Regions from separate parts of the Homo sapiens genome. Here region 1 is linked to region 2. The links come from fine-mapping of genetic effects on gene expression. A gene starts in region 2. The other region holds a variant in brackets. All regions are shown on one strand. Distances are from middle to middle. Region 1 overlaps MKNK1 (MAPK interacting serine/threonine kinase 1). Region 2 holds the start of MKNK1 (MAPK interacting serine/threonine kinase 1).

Region 1 (15,872 bases), 23 kb before region 2:
GCCTCAGCCTCCTGAGTAGCTGGGATTACAGGCATGTGCCAGCACACCCAGCTAATTTTTGTATTTTTAGTAGAGCCGGGTTTCACCATGTTGGCCAGGCTGGTCTTGAACTCCTGACCTCAAGTGATCTGCCCACCTTGGCATCCCAAAGTGCTGGGATTATAGGCGTGAGCCACTGTACCTGGTCTACTCTACATACTTCTAAGACATCCCCCAGCATACCAAATTGTTTTAATAATATTAGCAGCCAACATTTATTGGGCCCTTAGTGCCTACCAGACACTGTCCTAAGCATTTCACATGAATTATCTCATTTAATCTTCACAGCAACCCAGTGAGGTAGGTGCTATCAATATCTCTATTTTATAGAAGGGAATATTGTTTAGAAAAGGTTAAGTGACTTGCCCAAGATCACATGGCTAGTAAGTGATGCAGCTAGACATAACATAAGCTTTAGCTGTGTTGGTTTCTAAAGCACGCTCCCTCAACCACCAAGCCCCTCCGTGTGGCCCTCCATGCAGTTCCAGACATCCCTGCAAGTGTGTCCTAAGATTGGGGGAGTGATGGGAAGGGAAAGGGTTTCTCTACCCCACCTCATTATGTCAGAAAAGCAACTTAAGTATACACCCCAGTGATTATGTGTGTGGGTGATGGCATCTTTCCATCTGAAGGATGGCACATTCTCAGGCTTCCCCTTTATCCTGGGTCTGTGTCCCAAACAATAGGACCCTCCTCTCCTCTGTTTTAGCCTTTCTAGACTTCGCAATGTATTTGAGAGCTTCCACCCCATAATTAATGTAGTTAAACAGTGAACATGTCAAAACGGGATTGATAAATCGATGACTAAATGTATCTATATATGACTCCTATTATAATGAAAAGGCATTTATAAAATACCCACACAGGTGACATTCTAAGCTCTGCAAAATGCTAATTATCATCCTTCCCTCCGGCCTCCCTTCTCCCAAATCAAGGGCAGTTTTTAAGTCCTTCATCCTTTTTATTAGCTTGACTCGTTTTGGAAGTCTCTGGGATTCATGATGGATGATCACCACCCTGGGTCTTAATCAGAAGTCCACACACATACTCAACGGTAAGTACCTCCTTGCAATTTCTCAAAGACCAAGTAAAACCTTGTGTCATCTTCAAAGAACTCAATCAGCTCCAAAATGTTCCTTAAATAGGGAAAATAGGAGGAGAGGGAAAAGGGGGGAAATGGTATTATATATTAAAGTCTACTTACAAATATACAATGAAAAAAATATACAACACCTGGTAGTGGGGCAGAAACCAACTTGAAATCAGAATGCTTATTAAAGACCCGCGTATGGAAGCAGCCAATGGTGTTAGCAAGATTCAGGTCACCTTATCTTTCCATAATGTTTAGTCTCTGGTGTTTTCACCAAGTCTGTGCTGTCAAACCCCAGCCCTAAAACCCACTAGGTAGAGTTATAAAAAAGTCCCGGTCACATTAAACTGAATAAAATCTGCAGCCGACTGGAAGCAATTGCGGCTAATAACACTGAATACTAGGTGTGTGTCCTGGAGGCAAGCAGCAAATAATTACTTGCCCTCCCTCTTGCCCATAAATCACGGGGCAGTATTTACATTGCCTGGAGAAAATGGAAACATCTGTCAAATGGACTTGGGGCCTAACATGGGCACCGCTAGACCCTAACTGCTAAGCGCTGCTTAATGAAACGGCCGCGTTCCTGGCCACTGTAGCACTTGTGGCCTTCCCCGGTGAGCACTCTCTGTCTGCCCGAGTATTTCAGTGCTCTGCCAACAAGGTCGTCTTGTAACTCAGTAGGGAAGCCACCAGCCTGGATATTGGAGGTGTTGTGGGCTTTTTTTCTTTTACAAAATAAAATAAACCAAGTAGAGTCTCTAATGCTGAACTAAGAAGCTGCAGGGCTGAAAATAAAAATCTGTCCCTCATAAAAAAAATGCTGACTACTTTGGGAGATATGAGGCTTTTACTAGTGTGAAGGCATCCAAATAAGATGGGCAAAATGGCCTAATTTGAAAGAAGATTGTGGAGGCAGTGCCTGGAGTTAAATCAACAGCAGCCCCCGTCCTCCAATCCTCCAAGCTTAATGACAAAGCCATCAATACCAGGCCACTGGCTCCCTGCTGACCCTACCGTGGAGGGAGAGAGGGGGAAGTGGAGTCTTAGAGGTGCCCCTGATTTAAAGCCACAGTGGGAGAGCTGCTCATTTGGAGCTGGTGGTGGGCAGAATGAACTGGGGCTAGAGATGAGCCGGACCCAGCTATCTGGAAGGTTCCAGGATCTTAGTGGTATCTGCACATATGTAAACATTCTAGGAGCAGAAACAGCAGCAAATATTCTTAACAGTTCTCCTCATCTTGGTATTAAGGCAAGTCCTTAAAGATTTCTACCAGGCAACACTCAGTCAACCTAGTTTCCACAGGTACCGAAAGAAATAAAACCCCATTTCCCCCCAACAACCACTGATTCAGATAGTTCATTCTTCTAACTTGCTTGAATTGATGATATTTACAGTATTTCAGAAGAGATAATAGCTCCTTTGCTGTTACTGCTGCTTTTCCTTTCTCTCCCTAACACTGAAAGGGGCGGAAGGAGGTACCTGCCTTGTGGGGACAGGAGTGAGAGCTAAATGCTGGAGTCAGGAGATGGTAAGAAATAGCCTCCTCTTCTGTGGCCAAGCGTCCCCCCAGAGAAGCAGCGAGAATCACATGATACTCACTTGTTTCCCTGACACTGATACAGCGTCTCCACCTCTCGAAACACCCTACTCCGACTGTGCCCTGCTTGTTTCTCGATGATCTGTGGGAAGAATAAAATCTGTCATGTACACCCACCTGACTTCCAAACAGCCCTTTGGCAGGAGTCCTCTGGGAGAATGCAAGGCCACACTCAGTCCAAATCCAGTGTCCAGCAGAAGTCTGGCCTAGGCCTTGGTGACACCGGCACTGTGGCTCTGTTGGCAAAGCAGCAGACTGGCCTCAGGGCTTTCCAGCTCAGCTGAGCCCATTCCACTCTGGCCAAGCACAACACCAAGGAAGTGAATGAGGCTGCTGCCCCCAGCTGCCCAGGGGAGACTGAGGCAGCCGGCAAGACAAAGAGCTACCTTACTCAGCTCCACCTCCTGTGGACACCTCTTTCTGCCTTAAGGGTAAGCATTTACTGCATCTACTGAAGGATCTTCTCATGCTGGAGGGAGAGGCTGATGCAGGACACCGTGGCGAGGAGCTAAAGCTTTGACACCCAGCTCAGAGGCTGCCTCCACGATCCCCCTGGCAGAAGTAGGCTCTTCCTCTTCTGAGAACTTACTCTCTGGCAGATACTGTGTTAAATGATTTATTTACGGCCGGGTGTGGTGACTCACACCTGTAATCCCAGCACTTCTGGAGGCTGAGGTGGGTGGATCACCTGAGGTCAGGAGTTCTAGACCAGCCTGGCCAACACGGTGAAACCCCGTCTCTACTGAAAATACAAAAAAATTAGCCAGGCGTGGTAGTGGGTGCTTGTAATCCCAGCTACTCAGGAGGCTGAGGCAGGATAGTCACTTGAACTGGGGAGGCGGAGGTTGCAGTGAGCCGAGATTGTGCCATTGCACTCCAGCCTAAGTAACAGAGAGACTCCATCTCAAAAAATAAATAAATAAATAAATAAATAAACAATAATAATTTATTTACATAATCTCAGTTGACCTTTATGACAACATCAAAAGATAGGGAGGTATGAAACATTTGCCTGCAGTCCAGAGCTGACTCCTAAGCCCTTGCTATCCCATACCTGCTTAGATGCTCTAACTTCTTCGAGGACCTGGAGGCTTTGTCTCTCCTGTGATACGGTGGGCTGCTCCCCCTCCACACTTTTACCTGAGATGCTTGTCAAATGCTGACTGAAGGAACAGATAAGCCAACAGATGGGAGGGTGGTTTCCAAAGGGACTGGCTGCCTCTGCAAAGCTCTCTGGACCCATCTGGAGCCTCAAACCACTGCACACCGAGCCTGTGAGCAAATCTGCAGAGCCTAGCTCTGCCTTACAGCTCCAACGTGCACAGTGGGCAGCACAATGACATCCTCTTCCTTCATTGAGACTTCAAACTTCTCCGATATGATGTGGCACAGACATCTGTGACCAACTGCAATTTTCTAAATAAGTGTGTCTGTTTGTAAACCACAGTGGGCCCATTATCTGAATGGAGAGGTGTAGTGCTGGGGAACAGAAGTGATTCAACTTCATTCCCCAAGCATTTCAGATCAAAGTCATGAAGAACTTTCTAGCAGGCAAGCCTTCCACAGCACAGTCTTCTCTGAGGAAGTAATGGGCTCTTGCTACTAGAGATGGGGGAGCAGAACATGGACAACTATCTGGGGAGTCAGAGGAAATTCAGGGTTATCTTGAAATTCCATCCCAACCTTGAGAGTCTAGGATCAGCTGGGTGCCTATAGGAAAAGCTGTAATAAGCTAAGTATTGTGGGGCCATGTTGGGAGAAGTAGCCCATCTCTAGGGAGCTTTGAAAGAGTAGGGGAGAGAAGAAACATGGGCAGAACTGCTGAAACCAAGGAATTGCCAAGCCAGAGTCCAGTGTTTGCCTCAAAGATGCCAGGGGGGATGTGGAGGAAGGGCCAGGTTTTCCTCCCATTATCCAACCTTGAAGAAATATACCTCTCATCCATAAATGTATTGAAACCTTTGAAAATCAGTTTATGTTTGTGGTTTTTACCGCATTTAGACAGATATATCAATTTTTTTTTTTTTTTTTTGAGACAGAGTCTCCCTCTGTTGTCCAGGGTGGAGTGCAGTGGCACCATCCTGGCTCATTGCAACCTTTGCCTCCTGGGCTCAAGTGATCCTCCCACTTCAGCCTCCCAGGTAGCTGGAATTAGACGCACATGCCACCACACCAGGCTAACATTTTTTTTTTCTTTTTGTGACAGAGTCTTGCTCTGTCGCCCAGGCTGGAGTGCAGTGGTGTGATCTCGGCTCACTGTGCAACCTCTACCTCCCGGGTTCATGGGATTCTCCTGCCTCAGCCTCCCAGGTAGCTGGGATTACAGGAATGCACCACACCCGGCTAATATTTTTGTATTTTTAGTAGAGATGGGTTTCACCATGTTGGCCAGGCTGGTCTTGAATTCCTGACCTCAGGTGATCAGCCCGCCTCAGCCTCCCAAAGTGCTGGGATTACAGGTGTGAGCCACATGCCTGGCCTAATTTTTCTATTTACACTTAGGCGTATGTTTTAAAAATCACTTGTAATTTATACTGAGCTGTTTCCCAAAAGAAATTAAGACAGTGCTCTTGTTACCATGTGAAGCAATACTCCAGCTGAAAGGAACGTGGCTTAGCAGACTTGCTCAACCTTCTAACCCGCAGCTGGGACTGTGGAAAGTTGGTTCAAAGAAGAGAAAACATTTCCTTCAGGAGCCCACTGGGCTGGGATTGCCAATGTGAGGTGGCATTTGACCTGGTGGCTCAGGTGGGTGATTTGAAATCAGCTTGGATTTAAAAAGACCCTTTCTCTAGGTCAGTTAGTCCTCAAACTTTGGTGGCTATGAGACTCAAGTGGGGAATCTGGTCAAGCCACAGAGATCCAGACCCTATCCTACATCTGGAAACCTGGATCTGTGTGTGCTTTGTTAGAGCTCTAAGGGCTTCTAACACATAGTAGCATTCACAACTGCCCTTCCTACAACAGTAGTCCTCAAGGATTAGTGAGTGTCAGAGTCACCAGGAGAGTTTGTTAACATTTGTATTGCTGGGCCCACCCCTGTTTCTGAGTTGGTACTTCTCAGGTAGGGCCAGGTAGCTTCTATTTCTAACAAGTTCCCAAGCGATGCTGAGGCTGGTCCAGGGCACACATTTTGAGAACCACTGCTCAAGATCCAGCTCTTCTTCCATGTGGAGAGGGCAAGTGGAGGCACAGAGGGGTGACATGAGCCACTCCAAGGCCTTACAGCTAATTAAAGGCAGCAATGAGGCCAGAAGCCACTTCTCCTGCCCCAAAACTGAGTGCTCAGTCGCTTTAGTTTTGTTTTCTTCTTTTAATTTTTTTTTTCTGAGACATCATTCAGATGTTACCAAATCAGTCACCTTAGTTTTTAATCCTCACTATCATGCTAACATCTAACACTTGGATAGCATTTTGTGACGTGTAAAGTGTTTCCACCTCTCCCAGGATATTTTAATTTTCATCTTCATAACTGCCTCAGGAGACTGAAGGGCAGGTATCATCATTTAGAGATGTAGGAACTGAGGCTTACGGACATTTGATGACTTGCCCAAAGTCAAACAGTTATAGTTTGTCAAAATAGATATTCAGGTAGGCCTTCTAATTCCAAATCTGGTTGTCCACTCCCTGAAGCTGACTTCATTTGTCAGAATAATGAGAAACTTACTATGAGCCAGGCATTGTGCTAAGCACTTTACCTATATTAACTTATTTAATCCTCACAACAATTCTACATAGGTTCTAGTATTATACCCATTTTACAGATGAGAAAACTGAAGGACAGAGAAGTTAAGTAACTTGCCCGAGGTACACAGTAAGTAGAGAAACCAAGATTTGAATCCAGTGAATACAGCTTCAGAGTCCCCATTCTTATGGAATATAACATTTATTTGGTTCAAGATGAGCTAGGAATGACTATTTGCAAAGTAAAGCCTGGCATTCAGCTGAGACACTCACTTTGACGGCATACTCTTTGCCATTCTGTAGGCTCACGGCACCTTGAACTTTGGCATAGGCTCCCTCTCCAAGCAATTCAGAGGTCAGCTTGTACATATCTAGAGGTGAAATGGATGAGAGGAATAACAAGATGAGTCACCCTACTGCAAGCTCAGATGGGAAGAACTTTTGTGGCTCAGCTTCCCTGATCAGACGACACAGGCACCCAATGACTCTAGCACTCAGTGACAAGGAAGACAAGTAGCTTTCCCAGCCACCTGAGGACCCAGTTTC[TCAA/T]CAACAAGACCACATACAAGGCATCCTGTTCCTCATTTTAGCGATGAGGTTAGCAAAAGGGTCTCAATTCGGCACATACTTCCTGAATATCTACTATGTGCCAGACAGCATAACAGAGTAAGGAATAAAATAAAGGCCAGGTGCAGGGGCTTACACCTGTAATCCTAGCACTTTGGGAGGCCAAGCCAGGAGGATTGCTTGAGGCCAGGAGTTCAGAACCAATCTGGCCAACATAGCAAGACCCCATCTCTAAAATATATATACGCATGATCCCTCTCCTCTAAGGGTCGCAGTCCAGTGGGGAAGACAGACACATACACAGGTGACCCCAGAATAAACCAGGCATTGGTAAATACTATCACAGAGGGACAAAGTACAGTTAAAAAAAAAAGTTGGGGGAAGAAAGGGTTAAATCTGTTCAGAGAGGCTGGGCATGGTGGCTCACACCTGTAGTCCCGGCACTTTGGGAGGCCGAGGTGGGCAGATCAAGAGGTGAAGAAATCGAGACCATCCTGGCCAATGTGGGAAACCCCGTCTCTACTAAAAATACAAAAATTAGCTGGGTGTGGTGGCACGCGCCTAAAGTCCCAGCTATTTCGGGGGCTGAGGCAGGAGAATCGCTTGAACCCGAGAGGCGGAGGTTGTAGTGAGCCAAGATCGTGCCACTGCACTCCAGCCTGGTGACAGAGTGAGACCCCATATCAAAAAAAAAAAAAAAAAAAAAAAAAAAAAATTGGTCAGAGAATCTGGAGGATCATCAGAGGAGAAGTGGTATGATTTGAATGAATATTCATTTACTCATTTACTGAGCACCTATTATGTGCCAAGTTCTGTGTAAGCACTGGCTATACAAAGGAGAATAAAACACTGTTCTATTTTATACCCCATACATGGAAGTCATTGGAGGCTTCTGAGAAGTCTCCAGAAGTCACCCACAGGAAATAGAAGTAGGATGCAAAGGACACCTTGAGGTTTTTAGGGTACTGAGTCATAGTTGTTCTAACAGAGTAATAGACCTGGGTTAAAGGAACATCTAGATGACCTGCCCAAGCTCACAAAGAGCACAGCTCTTTGAGCCCCTTCCAAAGGAGGCTACATCTCCATCACAGCACTAGCTGCCTGACCTCATCCCCACTCGGCCTCCATTCTTCAGCCTTTTCCTCTTGAGGCACCTAGCATTGAAACCCACAGCCTGAGCAGAAGACATTTCAACCATGAATTAGATTTTATCACTCTCAGTCAGGAGAAGTCCTGTCATTGCACAAGCTGTCCTTAAAAATAGGAAGTACTCTCTTGTGTTAACTGAAAGAGCAAAAGAGCTGTTGATTAGGAAACTATTTGAATACCTTGGGATCTTTGTCTCTCCCCCATCCCCATACCCTGACACACACAGACACACACACACAGACACACACCCCTGCTGTTTGAGTTAAAGGCAAACAAAAAACCCCTGCTGAAAGTACCTTCTTGGTTCCATCACGGTTTGGTCTTTCAGTTGTTTATAAGAGCAGATGGCACACTGTTATTCGTAAGTGTTTTAAATGACATGCTTCTCACAATGGACACATTGGCATTAGCCCTTTACACATATCAGGATAGGTGGGTGGCTGGAGGTCCCATATTCCCAACCGATAAAGTGCTTGTTATTGGAACCACTTTACAGAACAGCCAATTCACTAGTGTGTCTGGAAGGCTGGAAGGAGGGACCAAGAGGCGAAGCTACTTCAGACCTCACAACGAAAGAAAACAAAACAGATGAAGTGGGGCACGTTACTCCTAGGAGTAGCTACTGATCCTCTTGGTGCTTTGCACAAGTGTCCAATCACCCCATCACATGCCCAGTGATAACAGGACCCACACTGAGCCTAGTGCCTCGCACACAGAGAGTGTCAAAAAATGTCTGATGACCCAACATCGTTTCTACTGAACACAACACGTATTCTTTAAAATGTAGTCAAACACACACAGCATAAGTAGCTACAATCTGAGAGACAAATTCTCTGCTTACAGGAGACTGAAGTTTCATTTGCGGCCATGGCCTTTGGTGTTTCTCTCTTCCTCTTATATAGTTCTATCTCTCAGCAGCCCCTCCAGGAATAGCTGAGGGAAGAATCACATCTGAAAAAAGGAAGACCCCAGGCAATGCCACTGATAGATGGGTCTTCCTGCTCCCTGAAAAGGAAGCAGTACCTGAGCCATTCACAGGAGGCCAGTGCATCATCTGAGAGCTTTTTCCATCCCTGCTCTCTTTCTGTAATGCCCTGTGTAAACTCCCTCATCCCCATCTTATCTCCCTACCACACAGATAACCACCATCTGGCTCTAACTTGACGCATTCTGTGATCGGACCTGTGGCTCCCGGGATGCTCCTCCCATGCTTGGGAAGCTGCAGGCCCAGATATAGGGAAGTTGTGTGACCAACCTTCAAACTTTCCTGGCAAGGAGTCAGTGGCCCGGCCCCTCCGCTTCTTCTTCCTCCTCCTGTCACCATCTGCGATGGGAAGGGGTTCGCTACTGCCCATCTCTAGGAGATAAGAGGAGATGTAAGGGAAACATCACTGTACTGATCAAGCTGTAAATTTACCCAGAAGGAAAAAAAAAAGGTAGTGGGGGAGGACCCAGGAGGTTTACACTGATGGTTTTTAAATATCTGTGAAGACTATTGATTTGTTTTGACCTAGGAGGAAAAACTAAAGGCAAAGCCATTATGGGAGATCATTAACTGTGGAAAGGAGCTCAGACAGGCAGGCTAGATTAAAAGAGGCCAGCGGAAGCCTGCTTTAACCAAGCTCATTAGCGCGTGGATTTAGATCTGCCACTGGTCAAACCATATTCCCCAAACAGAACAATGACTCCATAGGCAGAACCCCACCTGTGACATCCTCCAGCCTCAGCATCAGAAAGGCAAAACCGAGAGAGCTAGGCAAGAAGGGGGTTGGGAGTGGGGGACCATGCAGATGAGTCATAGGCTCAGCAACATCGCTATGGATGCACACAGGGCACAAATGGCCTGGAGTGGAGACAGCCTCTGTGAAGGTAGCAATAGGGCTGGGGTTCAAAATAGCCCCAAATTACTTCATGTCCAAGAGCACGGACTTGAGTGCCTATGGAGCCTACGGCATCCTCTCCTCCCATAGCTCCTCCATCGGAAGGGCTGCAGGTAGTGCCCATTCAGAAGTCGGCAGTTGACAGGTCTGTGCCAGGCTGCTGGATGAGGTCACTTATTGCAAAAAACCTTATTATCTTTCATTGGCAAGCACCTGGCTCCCAATCTTAAAAGGAGGATTTGTGAGGCAGGCATTCAGACACTGCACAGATTGGGCAGAAAAAGTCCGGATGGAAAGAATAAGCAGGACACTGAGATAGGAAAGAGAAAAGGAGGAACAGTGAACCAGTGCCCAATCACAGTCCTGTTTCTAAGACACTCTAGTATGGGCCTTTCCCTGTTAAAGATAAATTACTTATAGAACATGTCATGCCCCTGATCCAGAGTGGAGCTTTAATACTCTTTGCCTGCAGTTAGAAATAATAAGATTTCTCCGAAGTCTCTGGGTCTAAATCCCCACCAGCGTGATTAAACCTTTACATCCTTCTAAAATAGAGGCACTCGAGTGCTGATGGGGCATACGATGTGAGAGACTTTTAGACCAACCTTCAATAAACACAGGCTCTTGGTTGTTGGTGTTTTTTTTTTTTTTTCTTTCTTTTTTTTCTGAGAGCTTTTAAAATGGAAGCTGGTTCTTTGCCCATTGAGGGGAAAGGCCCACTCTCTTCTCAGAGGATCTGGCGGCATACGACCAGAGAAAGAGCAAGTCTGCTAGGAAGACTGATTAGTGCTCATGCAGGTCCATACACTGTTCTCAGACGCAAGTACGTGACAGCCATCCGGAGAGAGCACACAGGATGGCACTTTCAACACCACAATCCAGAAAGCATGGTTACGCAGCCAAGTGCCTGACAGCTCAATTTAGGCGCATTCTTCCATCCATTTTGGGGATCTGATGACAGCACATTTTAAATTATAGTTTAGAATGGGGAACAGATAAACACACAGATAAAAGAAATCCACAGAGCATCTCAAAATATAACTCTAGCCAAGAGCTTCAAACACAAGATATATCTGGGGACTGCAACACCCTATGAATTGAAAGAATTAAACATCTGGCTAGGCACCATGGCTCACGCCTGTAATCCCAGCGCTTTGGGATGCCGAGGTAGGCAGATCACTTGAGGTCAGAAGTTCGAGACCATCGTGGCCAACATGGTGAAACCTGTCTCTACTAAAAATACAAAAATTAGCTGGGTGTGGTGGCGGGTGCCTGTAGTGCCAGCTACTCGGGAGGCTGAGGCAGGAGAATCGCTTGAACCTGGGAGGCAGAGGTTGCAGTGAGCCGAGATCACGCCATTGCACTCCAGCCTGGGTGACAGAGCAAGATTCCGTCTCAAAAAAAAAAAAAAAAAAAAAAAAAAAAAAAAAAAAAAAAAAAAAAAAAAAAAATCAGCACCTCAACACCCACCCTCACCAAGGTAAATTAAAAGGAAAAAAGCTGCCCAAATGTATAACATGGTGAGAAATTCAGCAGAAATAAAACACAGGGTCACTCATCTTCAGGAGCTCAGGGAGGGGGTGCTGGCCATCGGGGCAGCAGGCTGAGAAGGAGGAACCATTGTCTCTCTCTCTTGCGCTGACCTTGAATGCAGTCCAGTGGCAACCCGTGTCTGCATCTATTTTCTCATCGGCACCGCAGGCCCAGTGCAGAGGAAACAGATTTGGGTTTCAGCTCTTTCTCCTTCCCCTGTCCACACTTTGATGGAGGGCCCCAGGACAAGCAAAACAGCCAAAAGACAGGCAGAGCAGAGGAGCAGCAAGAGGGCTGGAGGCATTATAATTCACAGGGGACACTCAGGCACACGACTCTAATGAGAAAACCCTGTTAGCGACAATTTATACTTGGTCTTTACCACAGCAGGGCTGAGGGAGCCGCTTGCACGAGAAGCATACCTCACAGCACCACCGCACACGTAACATTAGATTTTATGGCTTCACACACACACAAAGACAGAGTACCTGGTATATTCTGCATGGATTTCAATGAAAGAGGGTACGCCAGAAGGGACAAATGGTTAAGACTTTCCTTGGAAATGGAACTTGGAGAGTTGTTTCTGAAACTAGGAAGGAAAAAATGTAGGAAGATGGGTGAAGTGAAAGAAACATGCTTAGCTTCCCTGGTTACACAGGGGGAAGCGAGAGGTGTCATAATCTCACCAAGGGGTCGCTAGTTGCCCATGTGGAGCCTGGCCACACACTATTTTCATCACAGAGTCCACTAGCAGGTCTGTGGGGCCTTAATTCATCATGCAAACACTCATGGGATAAATGCTGCCTCAGGGAGTGGGACCCCCGCAGTAAAGCTGCACCTTGGCTCACCTGCTTCCCTTGGCCTAGGAATTCTTCTTGGTCATCAAAAGCCGGCTCGATAGTCCCAACCCTTTTGCAGCTCCCTGATAACTCCAGATGAGTTAAGGTTTCTACAGAGACTCTGGAAGTCAGTTAGGTGCTATGCAAATGGAGGGTGTTACTGAGCAGAACTAGTAGTTGGTGCTCCATCCTCTGCTCCCAAACACCCTGCGAGAAGCTCCACGAGGGCACTGATTTTATTTGGCCTTGAGTGCTCCCCTGTGTTCCTAAAGGCTGAGATTGTCCCCTGTTCACTTGTTTCTCCTACAGATCATGGCACAGTGTCAGACACATAGCAGCCATCAGAAATTGCACTGAAATAGAAATGATATGAAATGACATGCATACTGTTAGGTGTGGGGTATGTCACACTGGCCTTTTAGGTACCCAGTGCACATCCTGAAAGAAACATGGGTACAACTTTGCCCTGTAGACAATGCAGAGTAAGGCTACTTAGTTTTATGAATCCAGTTCAGGAATTCTACTAATTCCTGGATAAACTCCCTTTCGAAAAAGGGTCTAGGACACAAAACGTCCTTCACTTTCTTATCTTTTCTTTTCTTTTTGAGATGGAGTCTTGCTCTGTCACCCAAGCTGGAATGCAGTGGAGTGCAGCTCAGTACAACCTCTGCCTCCCGGGTTCAAGCGATTCTCCTGCCTCAGCCTCCAGAGTAGCTGGGACTACAGGCACATGCCACCATGTCCGGCTAATTTTTTGTACTTTTTAGTAGAGACGGGGTTTCGCCATGTTGGCCAGGCTGGTCTCAAACTCCTGACCTCAGGTGATCCGCCTGCCTTGGCCTCCCAAAGTGCTGGGATTACAGACGTGAACCACTGCGCCCAGCCAGGTCCTTCACTTTCTAAACAGAAGCCTGGTTCTTGCTATAGGATTGGGCAATGTGTCTGTTATTACAGAGGAAGAAGTGAGCACTTCTTTTCAGTTTCAGGCAGATCCCAGCTGGTCTGGAGGCTCCCAGCACTTCCGCTGCCTCCAGCCCTTGCCTTCCTCTTGGGAACGGCTCGGCGGTCCACCACATGTGTCTATTAGTGGAGGTGGAAGTGGAACTGAAGAAGCAGCATGCTGCTTGCTGACAGGGAAGGCACACAGGCTTGGCATCAGGCGAGCAAGGCAGAAGCCCTGGTTCAGATATTATAACAGAACCAAGGCCAAGTTACTGTGCCTCTTAGAGTCTCAGTTTCCTCATCTATCAAATAGGTTTAAAAACACACCCGCCCTGTCTACCTCACAGGTTGTTGTAAAGACCCAATGATGGCCAGGTGTGGTGGCTCACACCTGTAATCCCAGCACTTTGGGAGGCCGAGGCAGGCAGATCACCTGAGGTTGGGAGTTTGAGACCAGCCTGACCAACATGGAGAAACCTCGTCTCTACTAAAAGTACAAAATTAGCCAGGCATGGTGGTGCATGCCTGTAATCCCAGCTACTCGGGAGGCTGAGGCAGGAGAATTGCTTGAACCCCGGAGGCGGAGGTTGCGGTGAACTGAGATCGCACCATTGCACTCCAGCCTGCGCAACAAGAGTGAAACTCCGTCTCAAAAAAAAAACAAAAAATACCCAATGATATACTTCACATAAATATGTTTCCAAAAACATATGCATATGCACAGGTATGTATGCCCATATATGAACCCAACAGAGTAGAAAGACTAGACAGAAATACGTAAAACTGCTAATACGCTACAATTTTAAAAAGTGCCAACTACATGGATATTCTGTACATATTATCTCTAATTCTTATCATAATCTCAAAAGGTAAATATTTTTGCCATATTTCAGGTAAGGAAAGAAGCTCAGAGCAGGCAGCCAGTAGATTAAATAACCTACCCAATGCCAAACATCTAGTTAGTGGTTTAACTGGGATTCAAACTCAATGCTGCTCTTTCAAGTCCAGACCATTTCTAATCCATAAGAGTTTTCTCTATGTGATGGGGTGATTTTTATTTTCTTTTTTATATTTTCAGTATTCTCTAAATTGTACACAATGAAATTTATTTTTCCTGCTATTATTGTTTAACTCACGTTTTATTTTTAAATAAAGTACACCATAATCTTTCTCTAATACACATTGGAATTTGGTATCTGATTTTAGTTTTTAAAAATGTTTCTAGATTTCTCTGTATTAAAATTCAACATTCAGTGATGAAAGAAACATTTTAGGAATATTGGTGCCATGAAGATACTAATTTCGCAATCATTCAAAACAACCAATGTTATTTTTATTTTTTAAAAAATGCTACTTCTTGGCCGGGCGTGGTGGCTCACGCCTGTAATCCCAGCACTTTGGGAGGCCGAGGCGGGCGGATCACGAGGTCAGGAGATCGAGACCATCTTGGCTAACACGGTGAAACCCCATCTCTACTAAAAATACAAAAAATTAGCCGGGCGAGGTGGCGGGCGCCTGTAGTCCCAGCTATTCGGGAGGCTGAGGCAGGAGAATGGCGTAAACCCCGGGGGGCGGAGCCTGCAGTGAGCCGAGATCGCGCCACTGCACTCCAGCCTGGGCGACAGAGCGAGACTCCGTCTCAAAAAAAAAAAAAAAAATGCTACTTCTTAAAAGTAAATATTTTATAAAAACAAATGAAAAAATGTGCTGAACATTGGAGCCTGAGAGCTATGGCTCTCCTCCACTGCACGAACTGCAGCAAGCTGCTTAGCTTCTCTGAGGATCAGTTTCCTTGTATATGAAATGAGGTAAGCAGAAGGCCTGGGCTGCCCATGCCACAAGGCTGCTGTGAGGATCAAATAAGAGACTAGAAGTGAAAGCACCACTGACTTACTCTTCAATAATGCTATATTTATTGGGCACCTACTGATCGTCTGGTGCTAGACAGTGAGAGTATAAGAGAAGACACAGTCTCTTCCCTGATGGCGTTTAAATCTGCTGCTGACGCTTAAAACAATTTCAACATAGTAGGACAAGTGCTGGGACAGGGAGGTACCAGGTGCTGTGGAGCAGGAGAGAGGAAGCTAACCCAGTTGGGTAACTAGAGGAAGACACAGCTAAGCCTCAATACCTGAGGGATGAGTGGGACAGGGCTGAGGCCTGGAAGAGAGTGTCCCAGACCAAGGAAGGGCACAGGCTGAGGCCTGGAGGAGGGACACAGGGCCGGTGGGGGCCACTGGTGATCACTCAGGCTGGCAGGGGCACAGAGCACATGGGAGGAGGGATGACATTAGCTCACAAGCAGTCTCATCGTCATCGATGATAATAAATGTCTCCATTCCTAGGCATACGTTTATCTTGTTTTCTCCATTAAAATAGGAATGCATGTTTCGTCTCTTTGTAAAACCTGTGAGTGAACGAGCACTGATGGTACTGAAGGTATAGTAAGTGTGAAGGATACAGATCCAGGAATCATCCTGGTTCCTGCAGGGGAGATTTACAGAGAACTCATAGAGCAGATGAGGAAGGGTTATGGAGGCTCCCTAGAAGG
Region 2 (15,872 bases):
AATTTCTTGCTGTACTGGGAATTAAATTTCTTCAGTGCTTAAGAACTAGACCTTCTACAGACGTTTTAGAGCAAAAAAAAAAAAAAAAATCACCATGTATACAAACAAAAGATCCATCACATTACTTTCAAGACAGAAAACATCAGTGAGGCACAGGTAAGGCTAAGGTTTATGGCATCTCTACCCTTGGTCCAAAAAGCCAGATCTCGACCTGTTACTTCCTTGCTCTAAAACTTCTAATGGGTGTCCACTGCCTCTGGAGTAACCAAGCTTCTGTGCTGTCACTCACGGCCTCCATCAACTTGTCCCAGACCAACCCTCTATGGGAGTCTTAACCTGCAGTCTCGTCAAAAGGGACTGTATTTCCACCTGATTGCTCTAACCAATTCCCAGCTTCCTACACTTGTGCATAATTAAATTACCTGTAACATTTTATTACGCATCTTCCCCTAGACTGTTAGCCAGGGACAGGGTAGAGACTATGTCTCCTTCATCTCTGGGACCCCTACACCTAGCAGAGGCTCTGGTATGGGGCAACCACTTCATAATTGTTAATGAATGGATGGAAACAGCTGAAGTTATTCTTCCCTTAAGCTGTTTTAGCTGGACTCTTATTAGAAGACCGAGTACAGTCTGGGTCACTGCCACAAAGCAGAAAAACCGAAGAGAAAGAAAAGAGGCATGACCAATGTGATCCAAGCAATGGAAAACAGGTTTTAAGAGTGAGGTTAAAGAGACCAAGGCTGTTTAGCCGGGAGAAGAGAAGATGAGGTTTAACTGGATTCTGGCTTTAAGTACAGAAAAGGTTCTCATGAGAAAATCTTGATCTCATCCTCCCTTTAAAATCAGAAGAAACTTTTCCATATTCATGGAAAATGGAACAAGAAGAAATGGCTTAAGTTAAGGCCTGAAGGGTTTAAGCTGGACAGAAAGAAGAACCAAATTAGGCACCACTTTTCCAGAGATACTGTTATTGTACTTTTGGCAAGTGAATTGGAGGAGTCTTGCTTGGCACTCTTGTTGAAGGCTGTGAAAAAAGTAATATATGTGCTGCTCTGTTCCTGTTTACTGTGGAGAGAGGTGAAAACACAAGTCAGGTAAGATTTTCTAACGAGCCACTGATTTTTATTGACCCATTTCCTACAGGCACTTTCTGCCATGTTATGCATTGCAACCATGTGCTGGAACAATCTAGTATCTCAAAGGTTCCTGACAGGGCAATGGAAAGAAAGAGAAGGTAACAATGCGGGGGAAGGGAAAATGGCCCTAATAAATATACTTTCTATAAAAACAGTACCAAACTGGGCATTCATATATTTATTAATATTATTACTATTAAAGCTCACATTCATTGAGCACCTACTGTGTGCCAGGCACTGTGCTGTTGTATCTCAATTCTCATAACAACCCCATGAGGTAAGTAATATTTGTATTCTCATTTTACAGATGAAGGAACAGAAACTCAGGAAGATTAAATAACTTGCCCAAGTCACACAGGTAGCAAGTGACAGAGCCAGGACTCAAACCCAGATAGCCTGACTCTAGAGTCCACATACCTAACTACTGTCTCTCTGTAAGGATGAGAGGCTGGAATATAAACTCTAGTCTCTCTGAATCCTGTTTATATTCTCAGTTCTTCCTCATACAGTCCCAAGCCAGGACATTAGCAAGAGTTGAGGCCTCAGAAGTGAACCAAAATACTCCTCTGATTATCAGCATCTATAAAATGGGGGCAATTACACCCACATCACAGAGTTGTCATGAGAATTAAGTGAGCTAATGTATATGGAGCTCATGGCATCAGTGCCTGGCATACAGTAGGCACCCAATAACTAGTAACTGTTATTCCCGCTTCTGATATGGCTTCCCCAGATCAGCTGTGGCTCTGGAAAGCAACCCAACGACTCTGTGAACCATAACTGGCTGCAGGAGGGAATAATCTGACAGCAAATACAAAGGAAAGAAACAGACTGAGGACTCTCAGATGATAATGAGCAGGTGCAGGACTTGAATGCCAGCCTCTGCACTCCAAGTTAGTGCTCTGTCCTACTTACAGACTCTTGTTGAATTTGAGGGTGAGAAAATGAAGAGACAGGATGTGCCAAACAGGCTGCCTCCCCCGACAGACCCTTTTGTAACGTCAATCTCCCATCAGAACCCATGCCTGAAATACCAGGGTCCTGCAGCTTCTGTAAACTGGTTCTAAGATTCTACTAGCTAAGGATGGCAATGCACTGATTTATGGCACTGTGGGTGCTGCCAAAATGATCACCTATTAAACCTATCAAGCAGACCTAGTCCATGCAGCTTCCAAACTAGGCCAGTGATTCACCGTTTAAGCCTCTTCACTGATGTCCCCATTCTGGGACCATCTTTGCTCCAGTCTAACCTCCGTCCTGCTGCCAGAGAAAACCGAGCGCCAGTCAGGGCATTTGGAGCCTCTAGCATAAGGAAGATAACATGGGCCTTTGAACTCAGCACTGCTAGTTTTGAACCAAGCTGTGCCCTTACTATCTATCTAACCTTGGGGAAGTCACTTTAATCTTTCTGAGGTCTGGTTTCCTCATCTTTAGATTGGAGATAAATAGGCCTATATTACAGGATTAAATATAGTATGTAAAGCAACCAGCATACTGCAAGCCACAAAGCAAAGGAGACACTTTATAAATGCTAGTGTTCTGCTCCCTACTCCACTCTCTACATTTTAGCCAAAATCTGCCAATTCGGCTTACTTCTTCTCCTCACCAACTCCTCTCCCCTCCCACAACACACACACACACACCCCTACACCTGAGCATTTCTGCCTCTCAACTGTTGCTCAAGCTGTTCCTTCTCCCAGGAATAAACTCCCTCCAAGGCCCAGCATAAATTCTCCACCTTCAGGAATCCTCTGGTCATGCTGGGATTGATTTCTCCTTCTTCCAAACTCCCACTTTGTTTACATTCCTTACTACATTTACCATAGTCAGTCTGATTTCAGTTATTTATGTACTTATCTATCTTCCCAACTACACTGGAGGGAGAAGGTTCTGAGAAGACAATTATTTATAGGAGGGCAGGAAATGTGTTGTTTTCCTCTGTGTATATTTCTCAATACCAGGGTCTTGTACATAGCAAGAGCTCAATATGTGCTTACCGAATTGAATCTTTCCATCCTATACTGGGAATCTTTACAGAAAGATCCCAGACTGAGTTCATTCTAAAACTGCATTTACTGCCTAACTTGATAAATAGGCAATTTTTGAAGTACATGAATATTCCTAAACTAAGATCCGCTAATACTCATGTGGGCTTGTTTCATTCCTTCATCCATTCTTCCAATACACTCTGGACTCTTCTTGGGATCTCTCTCCAGCATATAAGGAGACATTGCTGGGACAACACTTCTCACTCACGGAGATCTGGGAGCAAGCTCTTTGGAGAACTGTTCCACCCCACTGGGTAGGAGGTGACTGCCATTAAAACCACACTAAAACCCAGAGTTGTGGAATTGGAAAATAGATCTGAATGATCTGCCTTAGTTTCCAAGCTATAACACAGAGTTAAAAACACTTTTAAAAACAGTGTCTGGAACACAGCAAGTGTGCAATAAATGTTCGATGTTGTATTAACAACGTAGTAGACTGAAAAAACAGAGTCATGACATTTCACTTCTAGAACTATCTCCACTACTGACTGATTCCTTGTGTAATCTTTTTTTTTTTTTGAGACAGAGTCTCACTCTGTCGCCCAGGCTGGAGTGCAATGGCACAATTTCAGCTCACTGCAACCTCTGCCTTCTGGGTTCAAGCGATTCTCCTGCCTCAGCCTCCCAAATAGTTGGGATTACAGGCACCCACCACCATGCACAGCTAATTTTTGTATTTTTAGTAGAGATGGGGTTTCACCATGTTGGTCAGGCTGGTCTCGAACTTCTGACCTCAGGTGATCCACCTGCCTCGGCCTCCCAAAGTGCTGGGATTACAGGCGTGAGCCACACACCGGCCTCCTTGTGTAATCTCAATCAAGTCCTTTCCCCATCTATAAAATGAAAGTGGCGGAACCAGATGGTTGGTTTCCAAGCTCCTTCTACCTTCAACCATGTAAATTTTTCTCTGATCAAGAAATAACTTTCTCTTCCACATGCTGAGGCTGTTGGCAAGGGAAAATGTGCATTTATAGCTGCTGGTCCCCAGATGGGAGGAACCACTGTTTCCCAAGGCCAAGGGCAGAGTAAACTGATTAGAAAACCACCTGTGAGCTTTCCCCTGTTTGAACTGTACTATTAATACACCCAGTGCAGGTCTCTGAACACAGCATTACCTACCTTCCAACAAAACTCACGGTCAAGGCAAGACAAGAGCCTGAAAACAATGGCTGCAATGAAGAATGCCTGCTTGTGCAGAATTCTTGTACTTTCTTGTTTTTGATGCCTGTAATTAGGGCATCAGTCTAAACTGGGGCCCTCCTTAGGCACAAAGAGGAGGAAAAACACAAAGTCCCATTCTGAACCTGACAGCTCATAAAACAAGGGCCAAACCTAGTAAATAAAAAATGTCACTGACTCACTTAACCACAAACACTGAAGAGGCCTACTATGTGCTGGCCCTATGCTGGACAGAGGAGGAAGGAAAGAGACATGGTCCCTTGCCACCCACGTACTCAGAGTACATATGGAGTGTACATATCCCTAGGCAGACTATGATGAGAGCTATATTAGAGGGTCAGCCTTTGCTACAGAAGATGGAAAGGGGAACAACTAATCCAGCAGAAGGCTCAGAAAAGCTTCACCATGGAGGCCACATGAGATGTAAGAGATGTAAGCCTTGAAAGATGAGGAGGAGGAGGGAAATCCAGGAAGAGAGAATATAAGCAAAGGCTCGAGCAGGAACATGCAGGGAGTGTTTGAGAAACAGAGATTTGGCCGGGCACGTTGGCTCACATCTGTAGTACCAGCACTTTGGGAGGCCCAGGCAGGCGGATCACCTGAGGTCAGAAGTTTGAATCCAGCCTGGCCAACATGGCGAAACCCCGTCTCTACTAAAAATACAAAAATTAGCCGGGTGTGGTGGCTCATGCCTGTAATTCCAGCTACTCAGGAGGCTGAGGCAGGAGAATCACTTGAACCTGGGAAGTGGAGGTTGCAGTGAGCCGAGATTGTGCCACTGCACTCCAGCCTGGGTGACAAAGTGAGACTCCATCTCAAAAAAAAAGGAGAAACAGAGACAACTAGTTTATTTTGACTGAAGCACAGGTTGCAGGTTTGGGAAAACCAAGGGAAACAGGGAGGGGAGAGGTGTGGGAACAAATTGTGCAGGAACTTGTCTGAGGCTGGAGTCCAAACTCTACATCCAGCTTGTCCAACCCGCGGCCCTGGATGGCTCTGAATGTGGTCCAACACAAATTCATAAACGTTCTTAAAACACTGAGATTTTTTTGCAATTTTTTTAAAGCTCATCAGCTATTGTTAATGTTAGTGTATTTTATGTGTGGCCCAAGATGGTTCTTCTTCTTCCAATGTGGCCCAGGGAAGCCAAAAGATTGGACACCACTGCTCTATATAGTAGGCAATGATGCCCACCAAGGTTTCCGAGTAGTGTCTCAGGAAGAGCACAAGGGCACCCATGAAGAGGATGCAAAAGGAACTAAGTAATTCAATTACTCTGGGACCACATTACAGGAGACCACATGCACTTTCTAAGCACGTGCTGGGCTCTGACAGCTCCTGTTCACAGAGCTTCCCTCTCCCATGGCTTCGCTTCATGCAATCTGAGTTGCCATCCCCCACAACTGTCAACATCTGCAAAATACCAGAGTAACAGGACTCCTAACCAACTCTCTGGATTACAGAGAGAGAAGTGTTGAGGTGGGAGCAGATGGGCAGAGGGGGCACCAAAGCCTCTAGCTGGCTCAGTTCCATATAAAACCCAACCCTGGATTTCCTCTTCACATCACTTCCAGCCCAGCCCTCTAATGAAGGGCTGAAGCTAAGGAGAGTGGGCTGAAAGCACCTGGCTGATGGGTGGTGATCCAGTGAGACATTACACCTACTGTCCAGCATGTGCCTGGCGCATGGGCAGTGGTGCCCTTCCCATTCTGCAGGGTCAGTTCCATCTGTAAATCCCACTGAGGCTTCAAGGCCCAGGTCACAACAACTCTTCTCTCAGAGCCTTTCTAAAGTACCCCAATCCAAAATGACCAAGCTCCTAGAAATCACAGCTACCATGTATTCAGCACCCATTACATGACAGGCGCCATACTAGGTGACTTCCATATAATCCTATTCACCCTTCACAATGACCCTATTATGGCCATTTCCTAGGGAAGAAAGTGAAGCTCTGGGAGGGGAAGCAGACTTGCCCCAGGACACACAGCTAAGAGGTGGAAGAGATGAGATCTAAACCCAGGACTCCCTGACCCTGAAGTTGAGCACTTCTAACAACACTTCATTCCTGTGAGCCTGCCTGCCTCTGATCTGCCACTGTCAGGGAGCTTGGAGCTCTCTAGAAGACAGGGTGCACCTGACACTCTTATTACCTTTCCCTGTGGACAGCCATCCACACAGGCAGGAGCCTTTAAATACTGAAAATAAATGAAAACAATTAACTTAAAAATAACGCAGTACACAGATTTCACAAATTCCTCACGTGAAAAACTATTCATGATACTGGACTGCCTGAGCCCTGCGCCCAGCCATAGCCTCGGTCCTGATCCCTGGGAGAGACTGAGTCTCAAACGGGCCACAGAGTAAGCGCCATCTCGGACACCGGCCACGCCCCGACCCCAGGCACAGAGGTCGCAGACAGCTCGGGACAGTCCTGAAAAGCGTCCCCTTAGGCTGTCCCTCCGCAGCTGAATCGCGTCGTGACCTCGGGCAGCCGTGAAGGCCCTGACTGCCCCCTTCCGGGCACACGAGCTCACTCACAGACCCCGGCCCCATTTAGCTCGGAGGAATACCTCGCAGGTCTCGCTTTTACCTTCGCTGGCTCCCGCCGGGGAGCGGTCGCGCGCACCCCTACCTGCAGATCGCTCCTCCGAGAACGCGGAAGAGGCGGTGCTAGATCCAGGGGGTGGGCCCGATCAGAGAGGAGGGTGAGGGGGCGGAGCTGCGCCTGCGCCCTGATGGCTACCCAGGGCCGCCTGAGGGCAGGGGGCTCGAGCTGAGCGAACTGCGCAGGCGTGACAGGGAAGAGGCGGGGAGAGGGGAGATTGCTGGCAAGCGGGTGGGGCTTAGCTCCTCCGGCGCTTTCTTTTCCGAATGGAGGGTGGAGAAGCCCGGGAAGGTAGGAGGCCGGGCGCGACAGGTGTAATTAACATGTACTGAGAGCTTCTGCAGGCCAGGAAGGAATTTTAAAATGCCTTTTATATGTGGGGAAATGCTGCTAGTCTTTTCTAAAACGGGGGCCAATTCTGTACAATTTCTTTAAAAGTCTGAGTGCCTAGAATTTCACCATAAGAGTTTCTCCTTGAGTACAACATTATCCCCAGTATTTCAAAATTTTTAAAACTTTTAAAAGTTCATTTCTTGGGGAAAAACAACTGTAAATAGGTTAATGCCTCAACCAGTCTCCCCACATCCCCTTCCCAAGTCTGCAGCTGCGATGAGAAAGGATGAGAGTGTGGACTGGGATTTAATTCAGGCGCTGACTCCGAGTGATGGAGGTGAACATCCCTTCCCTGCCTGTCTCAGGATTATCGTGAGGATTTGGTAAGCCAAGCTAGTTAAAGAGCCCCAGGGACTTGCTTCCCATCATCCACCTGACAAACATTTGTTCCCTGTCTTGTCGGGGCTGTCTTTTCATCTGTATGATGGAAGGAGATTGGGAATATTAGTGAACATTCAGGACTTTGCTAGATTTCCCAATCTGGGTGAAGGCCGGAGAGGCGGAAGATCAAGCTTCTGTGTTCATTCCCTTCTGGAATCCTGCGGTCCAACCTGAGGGCCCCGATGTATCCTGACTTCTCCCACTCATTACCTTCCGTGGAGGCCGATCCAAGCTTCAAGTCTTCAGAGGCCCTGCTGGCCTGTTCCCTTCCCTGTTGCCTGTGGCAATAGCCCAAGAGATTCAGGACCTATGTTCCAGGTTCTCAAAGTTGCTATGTCCCTCACATGGCAATCAAATTCAGTTAACATCTTTGAGGGCTCTGGGGGTGCTCAGAGGAAGGAGGGCTCCCCCAAAGCAGGTGGAGCTCTAGTCATGACTGTGGCTTATTTCACCACATATTCCACAGCTTGCTGTGGGGTAGGGAGGAGAGGCAACAGGAAACCTCAGAGGCTGCAGTGTTTATGGGAGCCGAGGGTGATGCGGCATCCTTTACTCAATAGGTGGATGCTCTGCCCCAGGCTGGAGAGGATGGCTTACTACCTAGGTCCCTGCTCCAAATATTGTTTTGGAATTTTTTTTCTTTTTTTTTTTCTGAGACAAGGTCTCACTGTGTTCCCCAGGCTGGAGTGCAGTGGCACCAGCTTTGCTCACTGCAACCTCTGCTTGGGCTCAAGTGATCCTCCTGCTTCAGCCTCCTGAGTAGCTGGGATTACAGGCATGCACTACCATGACTGGCTAATTTTTGAATTTTTTTAGAGGCAGGGTTTTGCCATGTTGCCCAGGCTGGTCTCGAACTCCTGAGCTCAATGATCCTCCCACCTTGGCCTCCCAAAGTGCTGGGATTACAGGGAAGAGCCACTATGCCCAGCTTTGTTATGGACCTTGAGCCAACAGGAAAATAAAGCCCAGCCTGACTTCTCAACCAAGCTGCCACTCTACCTCCCAGGACCCTTTGTTACTAGGTTTTGCCCCATGGGAGTGTGCTCTTTTATCTGCATCATTGAGGCCCTATCTCTTTCTTTTCCCCTTCTCTTCCTTTCTGTCTATTCTTCTTTAAGCATCCCTCTGTGAATCTCTCAAAGCAATTTTGTGTCAGCTTCCTAATGTATTTACAGATATTCTCATGTAAGGTGCAGGTCTTGGGTCACACAGTTCTAAGATAAATCTACTCTCACTGCCATGGTCATATTTCAAAATGACCATGAACCCAAAGCATGGGACTTGTAACAGTCTGAGCTGTCCAATGACAGAGGAGGTAGTGAGCGATCTGTTATAGGAGGTGTGCAAATAGCACCCTTTTAGAATGCTGGGATTGGGCCTCCTGTGGTGAGCCAGAGGAAGAGGCAGCAGAATGGAGGGCCTTCCAGATTCTAGAGGAGTGACTAAAGGCAGGGATATTGGGGGCTGGAAGGGAAGCAAGGCAGCTGGCCAAAGACACACTTGATTCAACAAGCTATTATATGTCAAGCACTTAGAAGTGTACCTGACACATAATGAACATTAGCTGTTATGATGACTGTGAATGATTCATAGACTATATAATGAAGGAGCTGAGATCAATCAGTCCTTCACTCCCATCACTGATAACAAAATAGATGAAGGGTTGGGGTCTAGAGGGGGAATGGGCTTGCAATGGAACTTCAGGAGCTGGGCTGGGGCTACAACCTATGCCTTTGCCTCCCAGGAGAGCCTCTGCACAAAGCCAGGCTGGCTCCTTTGCAGGAAGAGGGAAGAGCTCTAGATGGGCCTTTGTTGACTCTTAAGAACCAAGCTGCTTTTTAATTCCTGCCCAGGCAGCTTGTGAGTTGGGGCAGTGGAATGACAGCAAGACCTGAGCCAATAGATGCAGATGTCTACTGGGGAGTAAGCTCAGGAGTCAGGCCCATGTCCTGCCACCCCCACCGTAGCTCCAGCCAGCAACAAGTATCTTCCTCTTCAGGATGGCCTCCTGTCCTGTAATTAGTGTTGGGATTGTATTTCCACTCTGTCCTTTTATCTACTACCTCAAAAAAAAACCACCCAGAGTAAGGGGCTGGAGTGAGAATAGCCAATGCCAGGCCAGGCGTGGTGGCTCATGCCTGTAATCCCAGCACTTTGGGAGGCCGAGGCGGGTAGATCACGAGGTCAGGAGATCGAGACCATCCTGGCTAACGCGGTGAAACCCCGTTTCTACTAAAAATACAAAAAAATTAGCTGGGCGTGGTGGTGGGTGCCTGTAGTCCCAGCTACTCCGGAGGCTGAGGCAGGAGAATGGCATGAACCCAGGAGGCGGAGCTTGCAGTGAGCCAAGATCGCGCCACTGCACTCCAACCTGGGTGACAGAGCAAGACTCCATCTCAAAAAAAAAAAAAAAAAGAAAAAGAAAAAAAAGAATAGCCAATGCCAGGCAACCTGAGATGAAACAAGGAACGATTCCTATCAGACTGAGTTCCCGGAAGGCAAAGAAAAGCCAGGCTTCTCCACCCCAAGCGTCCTAGCCTAGCTCGGTCTAGAATTTCCAGAGCCCCAGGAGAATCTTTGTGTCCCCACCCTAGAGAGCTGGGCCAGACATGACCACACCAGCCAGCCCTCCACATGGTCCAGTATCTCAGGACAAAAAGCCTTCCCAGCCCCATTCTGGCTCAGTTCCTTCCATGGTCTGCCAAGAGCCATGTGGCACCCAGATCACCGCTTCCCACCAGTGGCTGCTTTAGTTTGCCTTTTATTTTACCAAAAATAACAACAATAAAGTCTTCCCTCTGTTTCATAAAAATAAATTTTCCAACCCTCCCCCTATCCCAGAAATCAGCCCTTGCCACAGCCTAGAATCCATCATGCAAGTCACAGCACTCTGGGAAAAGCTCCTACTACCCTCGCTCCACAGCCTCTGGCAAAGCTGCCAGGCCACTCTGGAGGCGGCAGAGGCAGAAGTCCCAGGCCCAGCTGGCTGGGCCCAAGAGCTCCATCTGTTTCCCCAAAGTACAGGCAGCTTCTAGGCCATTGAGTGGGGCATGATATTGGATGCTTGGCTCAGGAAACAACCCCAGCCAACCCAAGGGGCAGTGGGACATGTTGGCCTCAGGTTAGAAATTATTGCTCAAAGCAGAAACAGTTGTGTCCTAGAGAGGGTCTGTTAAACCCTCTTTCCATGTGTATCTCTATGTAGCAATTGATGGGCCCTGCGGTCAGGATCCCTGGTTTCTCCAGCTCCATGAATGCCTCCCTGTGAGGCCCTGGACAGTTTCTCCCTCTTCTTCTCCTGGCTTCAGTTTCCCCGTATGTACATTGAGACAGTAAGACTGGATGATTCTCAGGTTCCCTCTGGCTTTCCATTCTGGCATCCCAGAGTGGAGGCTCTGGGAGGGCAGAACCCTGTTCCTGCCTCAGTTTCCCCACCTGTGGGTCTGCGTATAGGGCTGGGTATGGAGGTACTGAGTAATGGAGTGCTGCGTGAACATCCCAGTCTCCCTGTGGATAGCTGTGCTGTGAGATCCAACTGGCTGGAATGTGTCAGGGATGGCTGGGAAGGAGGCAGGTACTTTTAGGATGGAGGATCTCCATGCCTGGAAGAGTCCATTCACCAACTACATCCTCAATGTGCTGGGATGGGAGACAAGACTCCAAAGTTCCCAATTCAAGTTCCACAAGCTCCTTGGACGGGGAGATTATTTTGTGCTGGGCTTCAGATCCGAGGAGCCAGGTCTGTAGATTCTGGGAGCTAGAGTGGAGTATATGATTCCCAGATGAAGGGCCAGGGGACCTTTGTGTACTTGAGGGATCATCTCCAACCCCCAGGAGGACACGTATAATACAGGCCTTCTTGGAGGCAGAGGGATGAGTAAAATGTCAGCTCATGGGCATCTCTGGGTAAGAGAATCAGAGCCTGTGTCTGCAGTGGGTCGGTTTAGGAACTCAAGGCAAGGCTCCTCTTCCTACGTTCCCCCAGCTCTCCAGGACTCATGCTGATGGAAGAGTGTAGCCTGGAAGGTTTGAATGTAGAGCAACATCTACAACCACATTTTTGTGCACTTACACACATGGTCAGATACACTGAGTGGGGACGCTGAGCTGTCATCACTCCTACAGTGGTCATGGTCTGATGGTCCCATGGTCTGATGGTCCCAATCTATTTATCCATCCATCCAACATTTATGGAAGGCCTACTATGTGCCAAGGAGGGGTAAGGCAGCTAGCTCTCACAGACACACCCCACAGTGAAAATCACACACACACACACACACCCCGGCATCTGTGCTCACTCACAGGCAGACTGCTCACTTTCTTGCACCTTTCTTGCCATCACCTCGGCCACACCCACATTCCTCCAATAGGCTTGGGAACCAGCATGGAAGGGTCAAGTGTCATAGAAGAAACCCCCTAGCCTACCCTACTCCCAGACTTCATGCCAGAGGTTTAACTCCACTTCCCTTCTGTTTGCCTGCCTAGATGCTCTCCCCTTCTCCATCCACAAGCGGTCAGGGCGACAGGTAGGCAGACTCCTGAGAACCAGAAGTCCAGAGGCTTTGGGTGTGTGGAGTGATTCCAGTGCCTTCAGATTCCTTCAGGCTCCTGGGGGTCCCCTCTGCCAGCCACCCTATGTTCAGATCGTCCATCTGATGGCCAAAAAAGTCCAGACCTGGGCTCAGTGGCAGATCCGCTCTGTCATCTCCCTCTGTAGAGACACAAGGTAGGGAGGGGTCAATTAGAGCTCAGCCTACTAGGCAATCCCTTCCCAAACCATAGGGCCTAGCTGCTCTTCTGTCTGAGCCTGGCCTTCCCCCAGCAACCCCAACTCTTAGGCTGCAGATCTGGGTTTGTAAACCAACACTTGAATGAATTCTCTATTGAAGTACAGAATTCACTGTTAAATGAATTGCCTTCCCCTAATTCATCTACTTGGGCGTTGGAGTTACTTAAAGCAGGCAGCTTTTGGACGTGAAAACTCAGAGGCTAGCCTTGGTAGGGGAGGGTGGTAGGGCTTGGCCTCACCAGTGGCTCCAGCTCCCGCTGGTCCACCAGACTGAACTCGCGGATGAAGTAGTAGAAGTGCTTGTAGCAGGTGTTGACGTGCGCCTCTGCCCCCATGCTGAGGATGCTATCGAAGTGGTGGATGTAGACATGGACAAAGACTCGGAAGAGGCGGGTCAGGATCTTGGTGCAGACCTGCTGGAAGTTCTTAGGGAAGGGAACTCCTAGAGGGCAGGGGAGGGCAGAAGGGGATCAGTATCCTGGTGCCAAAGCTCTGCTCAACTTTTCCCTCCCACACACAGGCAACCAGGATGGCTTTTTCCCCAGCACACTTTTTAGTACACTTCCCTTTGGAAAACAGAGAGTGGTTTGACTTTCTCCCATACTTTTCTTTCTTTCTTCCTTTCTTTTTTTCTTTCCTTTTTGAGACGGAGTTTCACTCTTGCCCAGGCAAGTGCAATGGCATGATCTCGGCTCACTGCAACCTCCACCTCCCAGGTTCAAGGTATTCTCCTGCCTCAGCCTCCCAAGTAGCTGGGATTACAGACATGTGCCATCATGCCCAGCTAATTTTGTATTTTTAGTAGAGACAGGGTTTCTCCATGTTGGTCAGGCTGGTCTTGAACTCCTGACCTCAGGTGATCCACCTGCCTCGTCCTCCTAAATGCTGGGATTACAGGCATGAGCCACTGTGCCTGGCCATACTTTTCTTTCTAATGAAGCACAAATCTGACTGTGGCTCTCCCCTGCTGGAATATACATCATCTTCCACATTTTCCCATTACCTAAAGCAGGGCTTTGCAAACTTGTGGGGGTCACTGACCAACCCTTTTTAGACTATGATAAAAGTTACGACCTAAACTCTCCCCAGAAATATGTGCAATTGCAGAGATGCTCACATCACACTCTTGTATACAACTCCAAGGAGAGTTCAACAACTGGGTCCATTTAAAAAATCCCTGGGCCTTCAGGATTAAGTCCTAACTTTCCAGCAGGACGCTGCTCAAGGCCTTTCATGATCTTATCCTGACCTCCCTCTCTAGCCCCACCCCATGTCCCTCCTCTTTTCAACATTCACACAGAAGTCCTCAGACCCCCAATCCTGGAAATTATGAATTCTGCAAGAGTTAGTTCAGACAGCCCTCATTCCTTCAAATATTCAACAACACGAAGAACCTTCCATTTATGAGCAAGGCCTTGTGCTGGGCCCTTCACACCTTTTGCCTCTAATCCTTAGAACAATTCGCCTGATGTGTCTGATTGTCACTTTAGATATGATAAAACAGAAGTGCTTATAAAGGTGAAGCTGCTAGCCCAAGGCCACATAAGTATTAATCAGTGCAGAATGGAGACTGGATTCAGACCCTCTTTGCAGTGCACTGCAGCGACCCTCACAGATATTGGGACCCATGAAAAAGGCCCCGCTTCTGCATAGTCCCCCATGCTCAAGGCAGAGATCTTGGTGGCTTATGCCCTCTTCTCTGTGTGGCAGTCACCCAGGGTTTTAGGCATCGATACCTGGAGTCCCACAGGCCCAGGGAGGTATGGCCAGCAGGGACTATGAATCTACATTCAGGTCCACAGCTGGCCCACCCGGCTCTGTAGACCCCCTCCTCTTCCTCACCATTCCCAGGTGGGGTCGAGCCTTCCCTCCCTCTGAGCCCCTCCAGCCCAGCCCAGATTCCTCAGACATATCCTGCCCATGTAGACTTGGGGTCCTGGGCTCCCACAGATCTGAGCCCCAGTTCGGAATTCCTCCCAGTTCAGTGCACTTTCCCTCAGTAGCCTCAAGTTTCCTCCTATGTAAAATGAAGGTGCTCCTTGTCGGGCATGACAGTGCAAGAAACAGCAGGCCACTGGCTGGGGAGGAGCCGTGGGCATTGAATTGTGACTCAGTGCCCAGCTTCCTTCAGCATTCAGACTTCTCCCCTCAGGGCTTGACCACCCTGCCCCACCCACCGCTGATCCACACAGCCTCTGCAGAGATGAGCTCCAGGCCAGGTGGGGGCTGGGCCCAGCTACAGGTGCGGCTGGTGTGATGAACACAGTGTCATGCCTGCTCAGCTCCTGGACCAACAACCCCCTCCTGCTGCCCTCGGGTGGGTAAGCAGTGCCTGGGTGACATCACTCATCTCCCCTCCCTACCCTCACCCGCCCAGGCTGCCCAGCTGAGATAAGAAAAGGCCCCACAGCCTGTGCCTGGCAAGGGAAAATTCTGTCCTCAGAGCCCCAATCTGAGGTGATGATACCACCAGGGCCCACCCAACCACCAACTCCCTCCTTTTCCTGAGGCCAGGAGTCAGAGGGAACCCCGGGAGGCTGGAGGTCAAATCAGCTATGAACACCTCGGGGCAACTGTTCTGGAAGGTTCTGAGAATCACAGCATCTGTGGTCTTGCCAGAGTGGTCCTTGGTGGGACCACTTATGCTTTAGAAAAGAAAAGCCCTCTGAGGTGGGTGGATCACCTGAGGTCAGGTGTTCGAGATCAGCCTGGCCAATGTGGTGAAACCCTGTCTCTACTAAAAATACAAAAATTAGCCAGGCGTGGTGGTGGGTGCCTATAATCCCAGCTACTCAGAAGGCTGAGGCAGGAGAATCGCTTGAACCCGGGGGGCAGAGGTTGCAGTAAGCTGAGATCTCACCACTGGGTGAAAGACCGAAACTCTGTCTCAGAAAAGAAAAAAAAAAAAAAAGAAAGAAAGAAAGAAAAAGAAAAGAAAGAAAAGCCCCAAATTGGGAGTCAGGAAGTCCTAGCAAATGCTTGACCTTGAGCAAGGCACTTAACCTGTTTCAACCTCGCTTTCCTCTTCCACAAAATGGGGATGAAAATCAACCCCCAACCCTGCAGAGTGTCTATATCAAACTAAATCCTCATCTGTGGAATGGGCTCCCAGTGGCTCCCTCCCCGCCAGGTGACACTCACCAACACGCGTGGGAAAGACCTCTTCGTCGTTGATGAGGCCTTCGATCCAGTCCATGAGCAATGCCATATAGCGCGGCGCAGAGAGCTTGGCGGGCCGCCGGTACTGGCGCTCGTCCTGCCAGCGGTACTCGTAGCGGGGCCCGCCGGCCATGACCGGGCAGCTGGTCTCACTGCAGCGCTCCGCCATAGTGCCGTAG

The links. PIP is the estimated chance that this variant, and not a neighbour inherited with it, causes the effect.
Region 1: its variant is fine-mapped to the expression of MKNK1 in whole blood (INTERVAL, PIP above 0.99).

The regions. Positions count from the first base shown.
Region 1 is chr1:46,573,846-46,589,717 of GRCh38, forward strand. MKNK1 (MAPK interacting serine/threonine kinase 1) reads right to left here. Exons shown (of 13, transcript NM_001135553.4): 3 at 9,383-9,484; 4 at 6,685-6,782; 5 at 2,730-2,809; 6 at 1,102-1,175. The coding sequence starts at 9,482. Among named protein-coding and RNA genes, the nearest start is that of MKNK1, 22 kb to the right of the region's middle. The variant TCAA/T (reference allele first, on the strand shown) is at 6,958.
Region 2 is chr1:46,597,229-46,613,100 of GRCh38, forward strand. MKNK1 (MAPK interacting serine/threonine kinase 1) reads right to left here and starts at 7,040. Exons shown (of 13, transcript NM_001135553.4): 1 at 6,957-7,040. MOB3C (MOB kinase activator 3C) reads right to left here. Exons shown (of 4, transcript NM_201403.3): 2 at 15,676-15,872; 3 at 12,774-12,976; 4 at 10,491-12,456. The coding sequence ends at 12,427. RefSeq lists enhancers at 6,354-6,854, 6,622-6,671 and a silencer at 7,002-7,221.